Regions from separate parts of the Homo sapiens genome. Here region 2 is linked to region 1. Evidence: fine-mapped expression QTL. A gene starts in region 1. The other region holds a variant in brackets. All regions are shown on one strand. Distances are from middle to middle. Region 1 holds the start of ZHX2-AS1 (ZHX2 antisense RNA 2). Region 2 overlaps ZHX2 (zinc fingers and homeoboxes 2).

The links.
Region 2: its variant is fine-mapped to the expression of ZHX2-AS1 in caudate (GTEx, PIP above 0.99).

Annotation. Positions count from the first base shown.
Region 1 is chr8:122,776,741-122,785,072 of GRCh38, forward strand. It overlaps ZHX2-AS1 (ZHX2 antisense RNA 2), which reads right to left and starts at 4,864. Exons shown (of 2, transcript XR_007061082.1): 1 at 3,433-4,864; 2 at 1,144-1,457. It overlaps ZHX2 (zinc fingers and homeoboxes 2), which reads left to right and starts at 4,915. Exons shown (of 4, transcript NM_014943.5): 1 at 4,915-5,206. RefSeq lists enhancers at 3,358-3,859, 3,860-4,359, 5,527-5,576, 6,232-6,766 and silencers at 5,627-5,696, 5,917-6,046, 6,827-6,906.
Region 2 is chr8:122,833,861-122,842,192 of GRCh38, forward strand. The region is part of intron 1 of ZHX2 (zinc fingers and homeoboxes 2); the gene reads left to right. Among named protein-coding and RNA genes, the nearest start is that of ZHX2, 56 kb to the left of the region's middle. RefSeq lists enhancers at 1,911-3,110, 3,758-4,589. The variant A/T (reference allele first, on the strand shown) is at 3,921.

The DNA of each region.
Region 1 (8,332 bases):
GTGCTGTTTTTTTTTTCCCATGGTTATTTTCACTGTTACCTTTCATTGGTTCATTTGAAAATTCAATATTGGATTTTCTTGTTTCTATTGTGACAAAAGGCTTCTTTAGTATTAGTATGAAATAAGTGCATTTAAGTTTTAAAAATGTGAATCAATGTAAATAAAATGTTTTCTTTTTTTTTTTTTTTTTTTTTTTTTTTGAGACAGAGTCTAGCTTTGTCACCAGGCTGGAAGTGGTACAATCTTGGCTCACTGTAACCTCTGCCTCCCCGGTTCAAGCGATTCTCCTGCCTCAGCCTCCTGAGTAGCTGGGATTACAGGCACTCACCACCACACCTGGCTAATTTTTTTTTGTTTTTAGTAGAGATGGGGTTTCACCATGTTGGCCAGGCTGGTCTCAAACTCCTGACCTCAAATGATCCACCTGCCTCAGCCTCCCAAAGTGCTGGGATTGCAGGTGTGAGCCATGACCCTGGCCAAATAAAATGTTAAATTAAAAATACTATAGGTAGTTCCTTTGCTACTGGGACAAAATTGGTGAAGGGGGTTTGCACATGAGTTAATTTGCAAGTCACAAGTATAGTGGGAAGCAGGCAGGATTTGTAATCAATCAAATGTGGGCTCAAGACCTGCTTCTAACTTATCAGCTGTATGGCCCATGGATAATTCATAAGCTTCTATAAACTTGTTTTCTCCCACAAATTAAGGAGACAATATACTATTCAGAAGGTTGTTTAAAAGATTAAATTACATAAAGTATAAGAAGCACCTCCCAGGCAGCCATGTACATGGTGGGCACTTGCACTCCCTATCACAGTGTATATCCTTAAATAATGGAAACCTCTGTTTTTGGCAACACCAAACAGGAACTTAACTCCAGTACCTACTGAGTATCTATGCTTGATAAATGAGTTCTTATTTGCTTAGGATCTGGGACCTGTGGCGCGGGATCCTTCATGAGCAACAACTAAAATCAAGAAAAGCTTTGATTTGGAGAGTGGGCCAGCTCAGGCATCATGGACCAAGAGGCCTCTCTACCCCTTGTCCTGGCCTCCAATATTTCACAATGCTACCTATACCCTGCAGAGTTCAGGGGGAAGTAGATCTGAAATATTCAGATATATGTGCAAATAAAGACACGGATAATAACTCCCATTTTATTTATCTATCACTGTGTAATAAACCACCCCAAAAGTTAATAATGTTAAACAACTACAGTCTTATGATCATCTCATTATTCTGTGGGTTGACTAGGTGGAGCTGGATGGTTTTCCTCTACATAATGTCAGGTGAGACTAGAGTCAAGTGGGAGATCGATTAGGCTGGAGCATCCAAGATGGCTAAAGTCTGTGTATTAATCAGGATCTCAGGTGGAGCTATTGTCCCTATCACCTTTGTTTTCACTCCATGTGGCCTCTCCATGAAACTTCGGCTTCTCACAGCATGGCAGCAGGACCCTAAAAGGAAGGAAACAGAAACTGCCAGTCTCTTAAGACTTGGATTTAGATGTCTCAGAATATCACTTTCATTGCATCCAAAGCAATCACAGGACCAGTCCAGATTCCAAGGGAGGGGAAGTAAACTCCACCTCTTAATGGTGATGTATTTTTCAAAAAAGGAAGGAAAGGATTGAAAAAAGCCATCTTAGAAGACTACCACACCTCCTAAAGCTTTCACTTTTTGCAAAAGGTTTTTATTCTTGAAATGTGTGTATATTTCAACTAAGCAAATATGTACCTAGGAATTTATCCTAAGGAAGTAATCGCAGATGATTCAAAAGATCTGACACAAGGTTGTTCATTGGAATAAAATTGAAACTACCCAATGCCCAACAACAGGGGACCAATTAAGTCCAAAGGTGGTTGAGGACAGTGTTTTAAAAGTCTATTCTCTGGGAAGCAGGTAAAATTAAGCTTAAATTCCAACTCCATTACTTAGCATCTGTGTGATGTCGAGCAAGGTACAGTACTTAAGCTCTTTAAGTCTCAGTTTCTATATCGGTAAAATAAAGACAAAATATAGATTTTTGTGATGATTCAATGAGATGATACATATAAAAGGCTCAGCACATGGTAAATGATCAATAATTGTGAACTGCTATTATTATTTATGATAGTCCTTAGTGCTATCATATTAGTGCAAATCTTTCCCATTCTCTCCATTTCCAGGCACACAATACTTCCATGGATCTTTACAGTTAACTTTGTGTTTAGTTCTGACCAATGAGTTGTAAGTGAAAGTGGCATACGTTACTTCCTGGCTGAACATTTACTTGTCCAACATTATTGATTCTGAAGCTCCTAAATACTGTCAGATAACGGTCTGTCTACTCCATGAGTATACTTCAAGCAAACAGGGATCATACCACATAAAGCAAAAGCCACCTTTGTCTTATTCCTCATTGTTTTCTCTTTATATGGTGCAAGTTCAGTCCATGCTAAACTCTGAACAATTTTAAAACACTGCAACACATCAGAAGCCCCTCATCCTTGCTAGTGTCCATGAGATCCAAGTGCTCTGAAGATATGAGAACCCAGCAGACTGTTTAGAGGGTTACCTGGCTTCCCTCCCACCTGGCCCATTCCACCCTACATACAATCTGTCACCCAGCCAGAAGCAGGTGGCAGTGAGGTGGCAGCAAGGGAAACTTGGCTTATAGAAAACCCTCCTAAGTGATTGATCATCCAGAGGAGGTGCAGCCTCAAAATAGGAATAGCTTCGTTAAGGTTTGGGTAATTTCCATGGAAACAGACAGAACTAGACTTATTTTAAAGGGGGGGGGGGCAGGGCGTGGAATAGCCTGCAAGGGGCATAATAAGGTAAGCGATGTAAAAATGTTGAAGTTGGTGTGGCCGGCGGGACGGGACAAGGCGGGGGAATGGGGGGAGGGTCCCATATTTTTTTCTTTTCTTTTTACAATTTTGGTTCACCCTGGGTGAGGCAGAGGTTGGGAGGAGATCAGGCAGCGGTAAATTCTGATGTTGATGGCAAGTAAATTAGGTTCTTAGCCGGTACCAAATGAGGCTGAGAAAGATGTGGCCCAAGCTGGATTACAGTCATCAAGAAGTTAACAGAATCCTGTAAGAGCCCCTCCAGGTCGCCTTTCAGGTCCGCGAGCATCACGCAAGAGACTCCTTCCCAGGATAGAATCTTGTTTTATGGGCGGTTAAAATGCAAACAAACAGACCCTACATCAGCAATAACCGAACAAACAGGTGCAGGCCATTAAGAAAGTTTTGCATATGAGCTGTTTTAATTTTTGTTGCAAAGGATTTCTGGGGAGTCAAGGGGTATGTCAGAAATTAGAGCCCTAGGGCAGAACTTACAAAAACCTTTTAGCTACTTCCTTCTCCCCGGCCTCGGAAATGAAAAAGCCAAAAGGTCACCCAGCGCATCCGCCACCCAGTCAGCCCCAAGGCCAGCCGTCCTCACCCCAGTCCGGGTCCTCGCCATTGGCCTCTCCGCTGCACACGGCCACCTGTTGATGCCCTCGCGCCCACAGCCGAGTTGCAAACGGCCGCTAGAGTTCGTTCTAATTCCCCAGAGCAGAGCTGCCCGGGAAGCCCCGACGCGACGCGCCTGCTAATCTGCAGGGCGGGCGGGGACTCCGCAGAGCCTCCCAGCCCCAGGCTCCCTTTGTTTTCTCGCTGCGCTCGAAGCTTCTAAACTAGCCCCCAGACCGCATCCCCTCGTCCCCGCCCGGGAGCTGCCCAAGAGTCCACAGGCCAGCCCAGGGGGAAACAAGGTACATCTGGGCAGGAATGCGCGGCGCAGACAGGTTGCCGCCTGAGATCCCGAAGTGTACCCAGATCCCGAATTCCTTAGAGCTCTTTAGCCGAGCACTGTGGCAGGAGCGCGGCGCCCGGAATACAAGTTCATGGTTCCGAGCCGGCGGGCGAAGGGCAGCGCGATCCCCCGCCACCTTTGCTCTAAGGCGCCTAGGGGAACCTGGGGGCTGCCGCGGTGAGAGCTCCGCTCCCACTGGGAACATTGGAGTCCCAGTTGCGAAAGCGACCCGCCTAGCTTCCGAGGGACTTCTCTGCGAGCACCGCAGGCGTGTGCATTTCTTCGAATCTGAGAATTCCAGCGAACTCGGGCTCTACCAGAGTTTAAGTCGGCCCCTGGGGCGTCTGTTTGTTTATTGGCTCTTAAGGGAAAAAAGTTTGAAGATCTTTAACCAGCCTCAGACCTGGCGCGGGCGGAAATCCCGGAATCTCCCCAAGCAAAAGTGATATAACTTCAAGTCGTTATATAAGTGGGGGGCTCCTTCTTCCCCTCCCTACGCCGAGCCTTCTCATTATCATTCCGGGAGTAAAATGTGTCTCGCTCAACATAGTTTTAAAATCGTTATTATTATTTTCCTGAGCCTGAAGCCGGGCCAAGGCGCAGGCAGCGCCCAGGGTGCGTGGTGGCCCCACCCGCGCACAGTCCCACGCAAAGGGTCCCGGGGCCCGGGTACCGCCAGAGCCGGGCCTGCAAGCGCGCCCTTCGGTCCCACGGTCCGCCACTCCACGTGGTCAAGATCAACAGTTTGTTGAGCTCATCAGTGACACCTTGAACTTTTCATAAAGAAAATGGGTATTGCACGGAGACGGTTTGGCCGCGGCCGCCGCGCGGGGTCGTGCTTAATATTCAATGATCTCGCTCGCGCCTCCCCCTCCTCTTCTCGCAGAAATTCCACCGAGTCCGTTACTGGGCTCAGACTTTTAAGTTAATTTACTGCCCCCCTACCTTGGCCAGTAACCAGCGCCTTTAGGGCTAGCCTCCCCCCCAGCTCCTGCCTGAAAAATGACATTTCGCCGGTGTCTCCGGAGGGGGCTGAATTTCACTTTGTAACTTTCTGCGGAACCCGAGCCCGGGTGGCAGCTCGGGTGGTGGTATCGTATGCAAATACGCATGCTGACGTTACAGATCATGTGGGTTTTGGCGTAGATTCCCCACTGATCGAGGCATTTTTTTTCCCTTTTTTTTTCCTTTTTTTTTTTCTTTTAAAAATTTTGGCCATCGTTCTCCGTACGGGGGCTTTTTCTGTCTGTCTGTCTGGCTGGCAGGCTGGCTTTCCCCCTCTTTCCCACGGAGCCCGAGCCGGGCGCCCGGTGGGGAGTGGGGAGTGGGTGGGGGGAGCCAGCAGAGTTCCATTTTGGAACGCCCGTGCCGCGTCTCCGCGTTCCCAGCCCGGGTCCCCGCGTTCACAGCCCCAGCGCAGGTAAGAAACTTCGCCTCGGCGCGGAGCCCCCCAGCCGGCGCCGCCGGCCCCAAACCCCGCACGCCGGGCGCCGGCCACTCCAGCCCAACTTTCCCACCGCCGCCGTCGCCGCCGCGGCTCCCGAAAATGTGTTGTTAATGGGACTTGGCCGGGTTTGTGATTGGAAGGGGGGTACGGAAGGGGGGGGGTGTGCAGGCTCTTTTTGCGGGTGGGAGGAAATGAGCGGATACAGAGAGGGAAGAAGATTTTTTTTTTAAGAGTTTTGATTACAAGTTTGGATAAATGGGAGCCAGAGCGAGGAGGAGGAGGAGGAGGAGGAAAAACATGTCTACGTTTCCCTATGTCGACATAAGCCACAAAAAAATATGGCGTCCGCTTTCGACAGGGCGTTACGTAGACCCGACTGTTTTTATTTATTTATTTCGTGGCCGTCTCCCTCCCTTCTTGGCCAAACTGCGGCGCTTTGTGCAAACGGGGCAGGTCCCGCGGGGACTCCACCGGGACGTGGCCCCGTCTCCGCGCGTTTTGGCAGGCGGGGGGCTGCGTGTGTCTGCTCCCCTCCCTCCCCCTCTCCCCTCGCTCCCCTCTCCCGGTGACGATTCGCCGTAATGTGGTGGCAGGAAGCATGACGCCGTGGGCCGAGGCTGCCTCTGCTCTCGTCGCTCCCGGCGGCTGCAGGCAGCGGGCGCGCAGCGCGGGCGGCAGCCGAGCTACCTGGCGGGGGCAGGGCCGGAGCGCGGCGCTGTCCTCACCCCCGCTCAGGTGCAGGGGGAGTCCGCGCGGGGCGGGGGGCCGAGGGCGGCCGCGGGACCCCCGGCCCTGCTGTCCGCTGCCAGCTGGCCGGAGCCTCTGCCAGCCCGAGCCCACGTTCGCCCCCCTGAACGGCAGCTGGCGCTTTTCGTCTGCCCCACAAGAGGTTAATCTTTGTTGGTGTTGCAGCTTCTTTGTGGCTTCCCCAGGACTTGTATCCTCGGCTTTGCAAACTTGCCCTTTTCCCAGCCGCTTTGCAGGAGGCTGCGGAGACGAAGATGAGCGGAAAGTTGGAAACCAGCAGGCATCACAGGACGGTCCCTTTGGCCTCGTAGCTGTGCTGAGCCTGGGAGGCGGAGGAGGAGGTGGAGGCGGCGGCGGAGGAGGGTTTGTCAGGCTGGGGAGAAAACTTGATGAGGAAGCCAAATTGTGATTTGTTCAGGTTTCCACCTGATTGATAGTCTTCAAAGCCAGTAGGTCTCTACCTTCAACTGTTTCGCGGTGGCCTTTTGTTTGTCTGGGGCGTGGAGAAGGAGAGAAGTCGATGAATAAGGACTTTCCCTCGACCCCTCCCCTTTTAAAGAGTGGTTGCTCAGCTTGGCCCCCTGGGACACTGCCTTTTAGGCCCTGGAGTTCTTCCCCAACCTGCTCTCTGATCACTTTCTCTCTGTTAAGTTACCAGATCTCCAGGTCTCAGGCAGGCCCCGATGAGCAGAATGGAGTTAGAGGAGAGGATTCCTTCCCCCAGCACTTCTTGAATTGCCCAGACCTCCCACAATTACCCTCTTAAAACCACACACACACACACTTACTCACTCTCTCCTTTATATATGGCAGAAATTAATGCCTGTAGAAGTGAAGGGGGTGAGGTTCTGAGAGCTCTTCAAGATTTGAGTCAAAAGGTGATTTTCTGTTTATGAGGGCAGCGAGTTTAAGCAGTTCACTCCCAGGGCAGTAATGTCAAAAAGCGTTTGGATGACGACCAAGTGGAATAAATATCTTGTAAAATGGCATGTTTAATAGTAAAAATAGATTAATGGAGCTGTCAAGTGGTTGAATGGGACTACCATAAAGGTTTAAGTTTAAAGGGAAAGTTATGTAAAGCTGTATACACAGCTTCTTTTAAGGCCAGAAGGGAAAAAATCTACAAGTAAGGCTGAAATGTGTCACTGACAATAATTGGACTGGTGATGTGTGGAAATATCATCGCTGTTTAAATGCTCTGCTCCGCGATTGTTCTCTTGCGCACTTGTACCTTTCCTTCTAGCCAGGTTTGCTGTCAGCTAAAGGATGCACCTGAAGATTGTGCTTCAGGGGAAAATGCAAGAAACCAAGATTCTGGGGCACATCAGCTATCTCAACTAATGTCCATTTGAAGGGGGAAAACACCACTGTTTGTTGGCACTGAAGAAAGGGTATTCCTGTGATGTAAGTGCAGTGTATCTTGACATGCTGAAAGGTGGCCCCACCCGGCGTTTCTCATCCACATCAGGACCATGTGATTTGGTGGGATGCTGTACACTTATCAAAAATAATCATGGCAATGTTTGATAACAGTTTCTAACACTGTTATGGTGTGTGAGGCACAATGCTGTATATTTTACGTGCTTTATCATTTAATTCTCACCACAATCCTGTGAGCTAAGTACTACTATTATCCTCCGTTTATGGTTGAGGAAACAGAGGCTCCAAGAGGTGAAGAAACTTGCCTGAGCGACACAGCAAAAAGCAAATCCAGGCCTAACTTCATAGCCTTAACCAGTCCATTGTAGCAGCATTCAGATACACGACGTCACAGTTAGAATAAAAAAGTAAAGGGTCAGGTCCAGCAGAAAAGAGGGAACAGTAGCCACTGTCCTGAGGTCCGAACTTCAGAATTTACCTGGATTTTATTCCTTTATTCATTTATTTAGCAACTGTGTGTTGATTTATTTATTCATTCAGCAACTATAATGTTCATTATACTAATAAGAACCCATAGCCATTAAGCATTTTTGTATGCCAGGCACTATCCCAAGTGCTTATGACTAGACTATTTTGTCTTCATGACAACTCTGATGTAAGTACTCTCATTCTCTCCTTTTTCTAGATGAGGAGGCACAAGCCCAGGTAAGTTAGCTAACTTGCCCAAGTCCAAACAGCTAGTAAGCGGAGTGGCAGCCCCCAGAACACACACACTCTGCTGTTGCAATGCAGAGCGCATAACCAGATGTATGGAAATGCTGGGGAGACAGAGCCCCCCTGGCAGAAACGCAAAGCACTGCATGCTCCAGACATTATGGAGATGCTGGTGGGATACACACCCCCTGCCCTCTAGGAGTTTGAGCCGACTGCGGGGAAGCACTCATTAAACCAAATCAAGCAGGCTTAGATAAG
Region 2 (8,332 bases), 57 kb after region 1:
GTGGTGGGCGCCTGTAGTCCCAGCTACTCGGGAGGCTGAGGCAGGAGAATGGCGTGAACCCGGGAGGCGGAGCTTGCAGTGAGCTGAGATCGCGCCACTGCACTCCAGCCTGGGCGACAGAGCAAGACTCCGTCTCAAAAAAAAAAAAGAGTGAGTGAAGGAAAAGGTGTGCAGGGAGCAGAAAAGTGGAGGGCTGGCTCAGGGTTTGGAGACTTGTCCCTCAATTCCCACAACGGAGACTTGGGAGGACTGGGTGGGTCCTGAAAAATTAGGTAAAGCAGAGTAGGTTGCCCGGTATTAATTCAAAAATAACATACCGGCCCACCTGCCACCATCAGGGTTACCCTTGGCTTGGATGAAGTGATGGTAGTTGCCAGGGCGTCTGTTCCAGGGCACCCTCAGTCTTCAGCGGCAGGGCCGATGAGATCCAAGTAGGAGGTTTTGGCCGGCTCCGGAAGGGATGGGGGCGGTCCTTGCTGGGGCTGCTCATAGTCCGACTTCCAGTGGGGTCCTCCGCAGAGGGGGCACGGCCTGGTGCGCTTACCTGGGTTTGGGCATTGTCTGGACCTGTGACCTTCATTGCCGCACTTGAAACAGGCGCCAGGTGGAGGTGGATTGCTAGGAGGCTTCCGTGTGGAGCTATGGCCCCGTGGGCCTGCAGGGCCCCTGATGGCAGAGGTAAGCATTCGAAACTCTGCCTGTTTTTGCCTTTTACTTTCCTCATCACGATTGTTAAAGACTTTGAAGGCTAAATTTAGAAGGTCTCATTGTGGGGTTTGAGGGCCGTCATCAAGCTTCTGAAGCTTGTGCCGAATATCGGTGGTGGATTGGGAGATGAACCGAAGGTTTAAGATAGTGGTTCCTTCTGGGCTAGCTGGGTCTAGGTTGGTATATTTTTTAATGGCTTCAGTTAAATGAGAGAGAAAAAGGGCTGGGTTTTCATTAGGACCTTGGGTGATTTCTGAAAGTTTTTCATAGTTTACCGCTTTATGGGCACCCTTTTTGAGTCCTGCAAGGAGACACACAATTATGTGGTTTCAACGGTGGCATCCAGAGGCCCTGTCTTGATAATCCCAGTGGGGGTCCTGGTTGGGGACTGCCTCCGCACCAGTAGGCTGGGCAGGAGCTTGGTGATGAATGGTATCAGCATGTGCCTGAGCTACAGTCCAGATACGGTCTTGGTCTTCTGGGGTGAGGGTGGAAGAGAGGATAACCTAGAGGTCATGCCGGGTCAGTTCATAAGACTGGGTGAGGTACTGAAATTTTCTAATATAAGAGGTAGCATCTTCTGGAAATGAACCGAATCTTTTGTTAATTTGAGAGAGATCAGTGAGGCAGAAGGAAACATGAACTCTAACAATACCTTCATTTTCTACTACTTTCTGAAGGGGGTATTCTAGCACCGGCGCTGAAGTAAGGGCGGGGCATGGGCCAAAGATGGCGCCCGAGCGAGTAAGGGCAGGAGAGAAGGAAGAAGCTGGAAGTGGTTTCTGCTGAGGGTTTGAAGGGGGAAGGGTGGTTGAGTTGATAAGCAGTGGAGGATAGGGGCGTAAGGTGGTGGGATGGGTTTACAAGCCTCAGGAGAGGGCGGTGGGGGAGGAGAATGGGTACAGGCAATACTAGAATTGTCCTGAGTAGGGGACGGTGTAGGAAAAGAAGTGGATACTGCTTACTGAGAAGATGGCGACTGGGAAGATGGCAGCTGAGAAGACAACGAGGAGGCTTGCAGGGGTTAAAGAAGATGGTTGAGAGGAAGAGGTAAGGGCTGGGAGGGGTGGACAGCAGTCTGCTGGATTTAATGAGGAAAAAGAGGTAGGGTCGGGAAGAGAAAGGCGATCAGGGTGGCAAGAATGGAGAAGGATTTGAACAGGTAAGAAAGAATTGCAGAGGTTGGGTTGTGATTTGAGAATAAAAAGGCCTGGACATAAGGAACTTCTCATTTCTTCAGTTGTCAGCAATAATTGCTTAAGTCAGTTAAAATTGTAAAGTTGAATGTTTCATTTGCGGGCCATTTGGACCCATTATTTAATTCGTATTGTGGCCAGACTGAATTGCGAAAAAGACACAGCACTTAGGGCAGATATCTTGCCTGAGGCCTAAGGTTTTTAGGGTTTTTTTTTATGAGGCAGCCTAGAGGGCTGTCCTTTGGAGTGGAAGACTGGGAATTTCCCACAACAGAGGGTAGGCTGAGAGAACAAGGAAGAGGAGAACATCCTGGACAGCAAGAGGGGGACAATAAAAGGAGCAATTGTCACTGCTGCCATTTTCGTTCCCAGAACAGGATCTAATGGCTTAGAGGCACCCCCCTAAGGCCAGATGATCAGCAAGTGCCTGACACACACCGGAACCTTCTTGGACCAACGTTGGATTTTTGGACCAGAGAAATCAAGAGAGGCCATGTGGATTTTCCCCTGTTAACAGGGCTCCCGGGAAAACTTACCAGTAGGCGAGATCAGTGACCGATGTGCATGCACAGAGAGGCAACTGGAGGCTGAGGAGCTTCCTTTGTCCGGCTGCTGTGGCTTGCTCTCCGGGGTGGAGGGGTAGGTCCACAGGGGATGCAGACCTGAGCCCCTCCCCGGTTTTGGCACCTGACTTAAGGTTCTTGTATCGGTTCGAACCCGGAGAGCGCGCGTTCGAACCAACAGACAACACGAGGCGGTGTGGAGCAACATGCTGTTTTAATGAGTTCCTGGGTGCAGGCGGGCTGAGGCCTAAAATGGCATCAGCACCAAGTGAGGACAGGGCAAAGATTTTATAGTCTCCTGTAAACAGGAAGTGTCCTAGTCTGACGTAACTGCTACGTTGTACCTGGATGGCCTCTTTCTTGATCTTCACGGGTACGTGTCTTCCAGCCAGGGTAGGTGTCTTCCGGCCGGCTTTCTTCCTGCTTCTGCTATTTTGCTGGCCCACACTGCTGGCGCAAGGCTTGCGCCTTGGTACTGGGCCTGAGAAGGGAGGAGTTATTCATCCCCTTAAGCTTTCAGGCCCCAGGGAGAATCTTACACTACTGGGCTGCATTTCCAGACAATTAGGGCATTCTAAGGCACAGGATGAGGTAGGAGGTCCGCACAAGATACAGGTCATAAAGACCTTGCAGATAAAACAGCTTGCAGTAAATAAGCTGGCCCAAACCCACGAAAATCAAGATTTTGACCAGAGTGACCCTCTGGTCATCCTCACTGCTACACTCCCACCAGCATCATGACAGTTTACAAACACCATGGCAACGTCAGGAAGGTACCCTATATGGTCTAAAAAGGGGAGGCATGAAGAATCCACCCCTTGTTTAGCATATCATCAAGAAATAACCATAAAAATGGGCAACCCCTATGGAGTAGCCATTATTTTATTCCTTTACTTTCTTAATAAACTTGCTTTCACTTTATGGACTCGCCCTGAATTCTTTCTTGTGCAGGATCCAAGAACCCTCTCTTGGGATCTAGATCTGGACCCCTTTCCAGTAACTGTATTACTGACCATCAAAGGAAACCCCATCTGAGCAATGGGTTCCAGACCCCCATCTCTAATCGTGAGCCCCATCCTGGAAGTCACTTGTAATAAGGAAAGTTATTCCATAAGCTGGTCCTGCCACTACCCCTACAGGTTTCAAACACCCACCCTCCTTTCCAAAACCAGACCCAGGTTACTGTGGTCACCTACTGGTGACTTCATTTGCATCTGGTGGTCAGATCTAGTCAGGGTGTAATTCGGCTAAATTAATAGTGCTAATAGTGCAAATTCCTAGTGCGTTTTACAGGTGGGGAATAGAGGGTGAGAATTTGGGATTTAAAACTGGCATTTCAGAAATGCTGTCACATTAGAGCTTCATTTCAGTCCCTTGGGGTGGCCACCAAGTAAACAGCTCAATTTCCATCCCTGCTGGAGGTACAGAATGCAGCATTCACACTTGCCAACAG[A/T]TAATGTCTCCTGTCTTTGTCGGTGCTTAATGGCTTTTAGTAGAGTTAAGGCTGAGAAGAAAGAGACTGACTTCCTCTTATTGGGTAAAATGGAAACACTGGGGAGACAATTCCATTTCAGACAGACCCTTTCCTTCTCAGATTACTGATCCACAACCCAGCCAACTCCCTTTCAGCTCATTCAGGTAACATGGAAGACAGAGGCCACCCGCTTAGGGGAGAGGAGGGTGGAAGAGCCCGTTGAGCTTTGTGTTTGGGATTTGTCAGCAGAGAGGAGATTTGCATTTCTAATAAGAGCCCCGTCTGGGTGTGCTTTAGCCCAGTGGCTGCACATCTCTGTAGCTCTCCAAGTGCTCTCAGTTTGCAGAGCAAGGGAAGAATCTTCTACAAAAACAAATAGCTGTGGGAAGAGAGCAGAAAGCACAGCACAGTGGGGTGCCAGGGGCACTTCCTGGGTATCAAGGAACGTTTAAAAATGGTATTACATCAAGTCACCACAGACACCCTGGCGAATATTCCTCGTGTGCCCATCCCTCACATGCCCTTTGTCTATGTAAGAGAAACTCATTACATGTTCTACTCTGAGATTTGGAGATTTATTGTTATTTCTCCAAAAAGAAGTAACGAGGCATGTCAGTCCCAGCGTGTTTATACAGCAGAAAACTGGGAAAAGAAAACAAGGTTCAACAAGAGGTGAATAGTACGATAATTAAACAATTAAATAAATAAATGGTTAAATACGTGGTAGAAACCTTTCGATCATATATGAAGTCTACAGTATTTAGTAATGTGATTTTTTTTTTTTTTTTTTTTTGAGACAGAGTTCACTCTGTCACCCAGGCTGGAGTGCAGTGGCTCGATCTCGGCTCACTGCAACTTCCATCTCCCAGGTTCAAGCGATTCATTCCTGCCTCAGCCTCCCGAGTAGCTGGGACTACAAGCACGTGCCACTACACCCAGCTAATTTTTGTATTTTTAGTAGAGACGGGGTTTCACCTGTTGGCCAGGCTGGTCTGGAACTCCTGACCGCATGATCTGCCCGCCTTGCCCTCCCAGAGTGCTGGAATTACAAGCGTGAGCCACCATGCCTGGCCAATGTGATTTTTTTAAAGTGGTAAATGTTAAATGAAAAATGCAGGATTCATACTGTATATATAGTTTTTATTTAAGAAAAACACATAATGCATGATGAAATTACAGCAAAATGTTAACAAAGTTGAGATCTTTAGAGATCAAATCAGAAATTATTATTTTTCTTTCTTTCATTTCTACATGTATTCCAAAGGGTTTTTCGTGTATGATTATAGAAGTTATATGTTGGAGCAGGGAACCCCACTATACCCTCATTACTTTTTTTTTCCCTTCCTTCTTTTTTTATCTTGGGCACACACTAGAATGTGGCATTGCTCTCTGTGGGCCCATCCGCACTCCATTCAGCCAAGTATTCTATTGCTAACAGAGAACAGAGCAGGTTGCACAAGCAATGGACAAAATCTGAACATTTCCAACTTCCCTCACCCCATCATTCACTCACCCATGAGTTCATCTAAACCCTTCTTCCACTTGTTTATATTTTTAGCTGGTACAGCCTCTCGGGCCCAGTGACTTCCATGTGTTTTCCACCCTCGGTGTGAAGTGGCAGAGGCCTGCCCGGCTCGTATCCTCAGATGACCTCCTTTGGACTCCAAGGGGTCCTCCCTGTTTTTTACCTTTCCAGCATTAAGGGAACAAAATAAGAACCTCAATGATATGTTTGCAATTAGCAAAGCACACTTATGGACATAATTTTGTAGAACTATAGAACTTGGTATTGGAAGAGGCCTTAGGAACAGTTTAGGCCAGTGTTTTCCTAAAAGTCCACAATACAGGGAGTATTTCCAGAAATCACTGCAAGTTGTACAGTCCCCAGGATATGGTGGCACGGGGTGGCATGGGATCGTGGGGGGTTTGGTTTTGTTTTTGCTTCGGGCTGCAATTGGATAACAATGGTTACCTCGTTTTGTTCAGAAACTCCAGCAGTTATACATATGCCTGGTTATTTTGTTAATAGATAATTAATGTATGAGAGACAGAATCTTTTAAACTTTGTGTTGTGGAGAAGGTGGACATTGATGGGACCCTCTATTCTGAGCTAGATCTGTGAGTGGAGAGGTCACTGCCTGAAGGTTGAGAAATATATATTCTGGCACTTCACTGCCTGAAGGGTGAGAAAATGGGCTCTGAAGTGGCTCCCTGACCCCAGCAGAAGAGGCTGGTACATGGGGCCACTGGACTAGAATCCAGATTGTCTGACTCTAAGTGCCAGGCTAGCTCCAGGGCACCTATTCTACCTTTGTTTAAACCAACTTCCTGAGACGTGCTTCCTGCACTAGGAATAATTTAGTAGATTTTGAATTTGTGCATGCTCCAAGTGTGGTCTTTCCAGACTGAGTCTTCTGTTTAGAAAATGATTAATTATTGTAATTGCCTAAGTCCTTTACTCTTCCCACAGTTACTCTTTCCTAACTGTGGAAATACAGACTTCCAAGTTTGGTAGAGTGTCGTGGGAAAGAAGGTAGGTTCTGGAATCAGACACCCTAGGTTCAAATCCTAGCTCTCCCACTCGCCAGTCCCTGATCCCAGGTTTAACTTCTCTGTGCATCAATTTGCCCAACTGCAAAATGGGAATAATGATAGTATCTACCTTAAAGGGCCGTTGTGAAGATTAACCATTGTGATGAGTGCTTGTCATTACATTGCATAGAAAAAGTGCTTTACGTTAAAAGTGGCTTACATTACACTTGTCATTACATTGCACAGAAAATTCATTACAAGCACAGAAAGTACTTGTCCCATGCCTCATGCTCAGTGCATACTCAATAAATAAGAGTAGTCACCATCGTCACTGTCATTGTCATTACTGTTGGGTTTTCATGGAAGGACCCTGGCCAGAACAGTGTCAGCTTAAACTTATTTTGCTTTGCTGGACCTGTGGCCATTACTTCCTTTTCTGTGTTGTTTGCTTTATCCTTTAGAGAACAATTAAACCTCTCCCCATTGTCAGTACCCATTTTAAAGAGCAAGACCCTGAAATCCAGTGTGACTTGCTCAAGGTCACTCAGCTTGTCAGGGCAGAGTGGGAGGAAAAGCCCGAATCTCCTGTTCACCTGCCAACAGCTCTTTGCACCATGGTGCCATGTTTCCTCTGCATGCCTCCGTTCATCCTCCACACCCGGAAAACACAGAGAAGCAGGAGAATCAGCCAGATACATGAAAACTCTTGTTTCGAACACTGAGCATTGACTGTTTACCTGGCCCTTGGTTCTTGTCTTTCTTTCGTTTTAGCAGCAGCATTACGTACTGCTGCCAGGTGGAGCGTTGCTGGTTCCTGCTTCCCCTTCCTCCCTGCCTGTCTTCCCCTGACACTTCCCTGCAGGAAACCACTAGCCCTAATGAGAACTCTCAAACGGTGGAGCAGATGACAAAGGCGCTAGAGGCCTGGGGATAGCGGGAAGTCAGCCGGTGACTTCCGCCTGGTTTAAAGCCCGTGTCTTTCCTGTATTCAATCCAGTGGCGCATCATAAGAATTCCCTGAAGCATTTAGCCACCTGAAAGGCCTTCTCTAAGGCCTAGAGATCTCCCTATCCACCACTTCCTGAGCACACCTTGCAGGTGCCAGACATTTTGGGGTTGCAAAACCCACCTCCTGCCTCACAGTAGGGAGTCAGGAACAGACCGTGAACTACACAGAGTTCTTGTACATACAGGGCACTTGGAGGGTCGGGGGTTGGGGGGCAATCCAGGCAGAGGGGCAGCCTGAGCAGAGAGGCACAGTGTGAGTTCACATTTAGCAGGCAGCTGAATGCTTAATTGTTCTCTGATTGCTTTGAGGGTGTTTCAGCCCTCCAGCTAGAGAGAGTGGTTCTGGCTAGACATGGTGATGAAGCCTCCCTTTCCTCCCAAGCCCCTGCTTTTGTGGAGCTGATTGACAGCTCGGAAAGCCTCTTCATGTATGTGATTGTATTTGAGCCGCTAAGCGTCTGTGTGAGATCAGATGTTATCCCCCATTTTACAGATGAGGAAACTGAAGCCCTTAGATGGTAACTCAGTGGCTTAGCTACCCAGTGACAACCTAAACTTGTACTGAGATATGAAGTCTCAGTATGAGATATGAAGACTCCAAGTCCTCCCTAGCTCTCTCCCTTATGGTCAGCTCTGGGGAAATGTGCGCAGACATAGTGCTTGACTGTAGAGCCCACTCTTAGAGACACGAAGAAGGAACAAACAAATGAGCACGAGCTCCTGGGGCACAGTGAGAAGGGCACTGGCTTTGGAAGCGAGACCTATAGCTCAAGTTCCAGCTCTTCCAGGCATGAGTTGCATGGACTTAGGACAGTCATGTCTCTTTATGTGGGACTCGGTTTCCCTAGTTG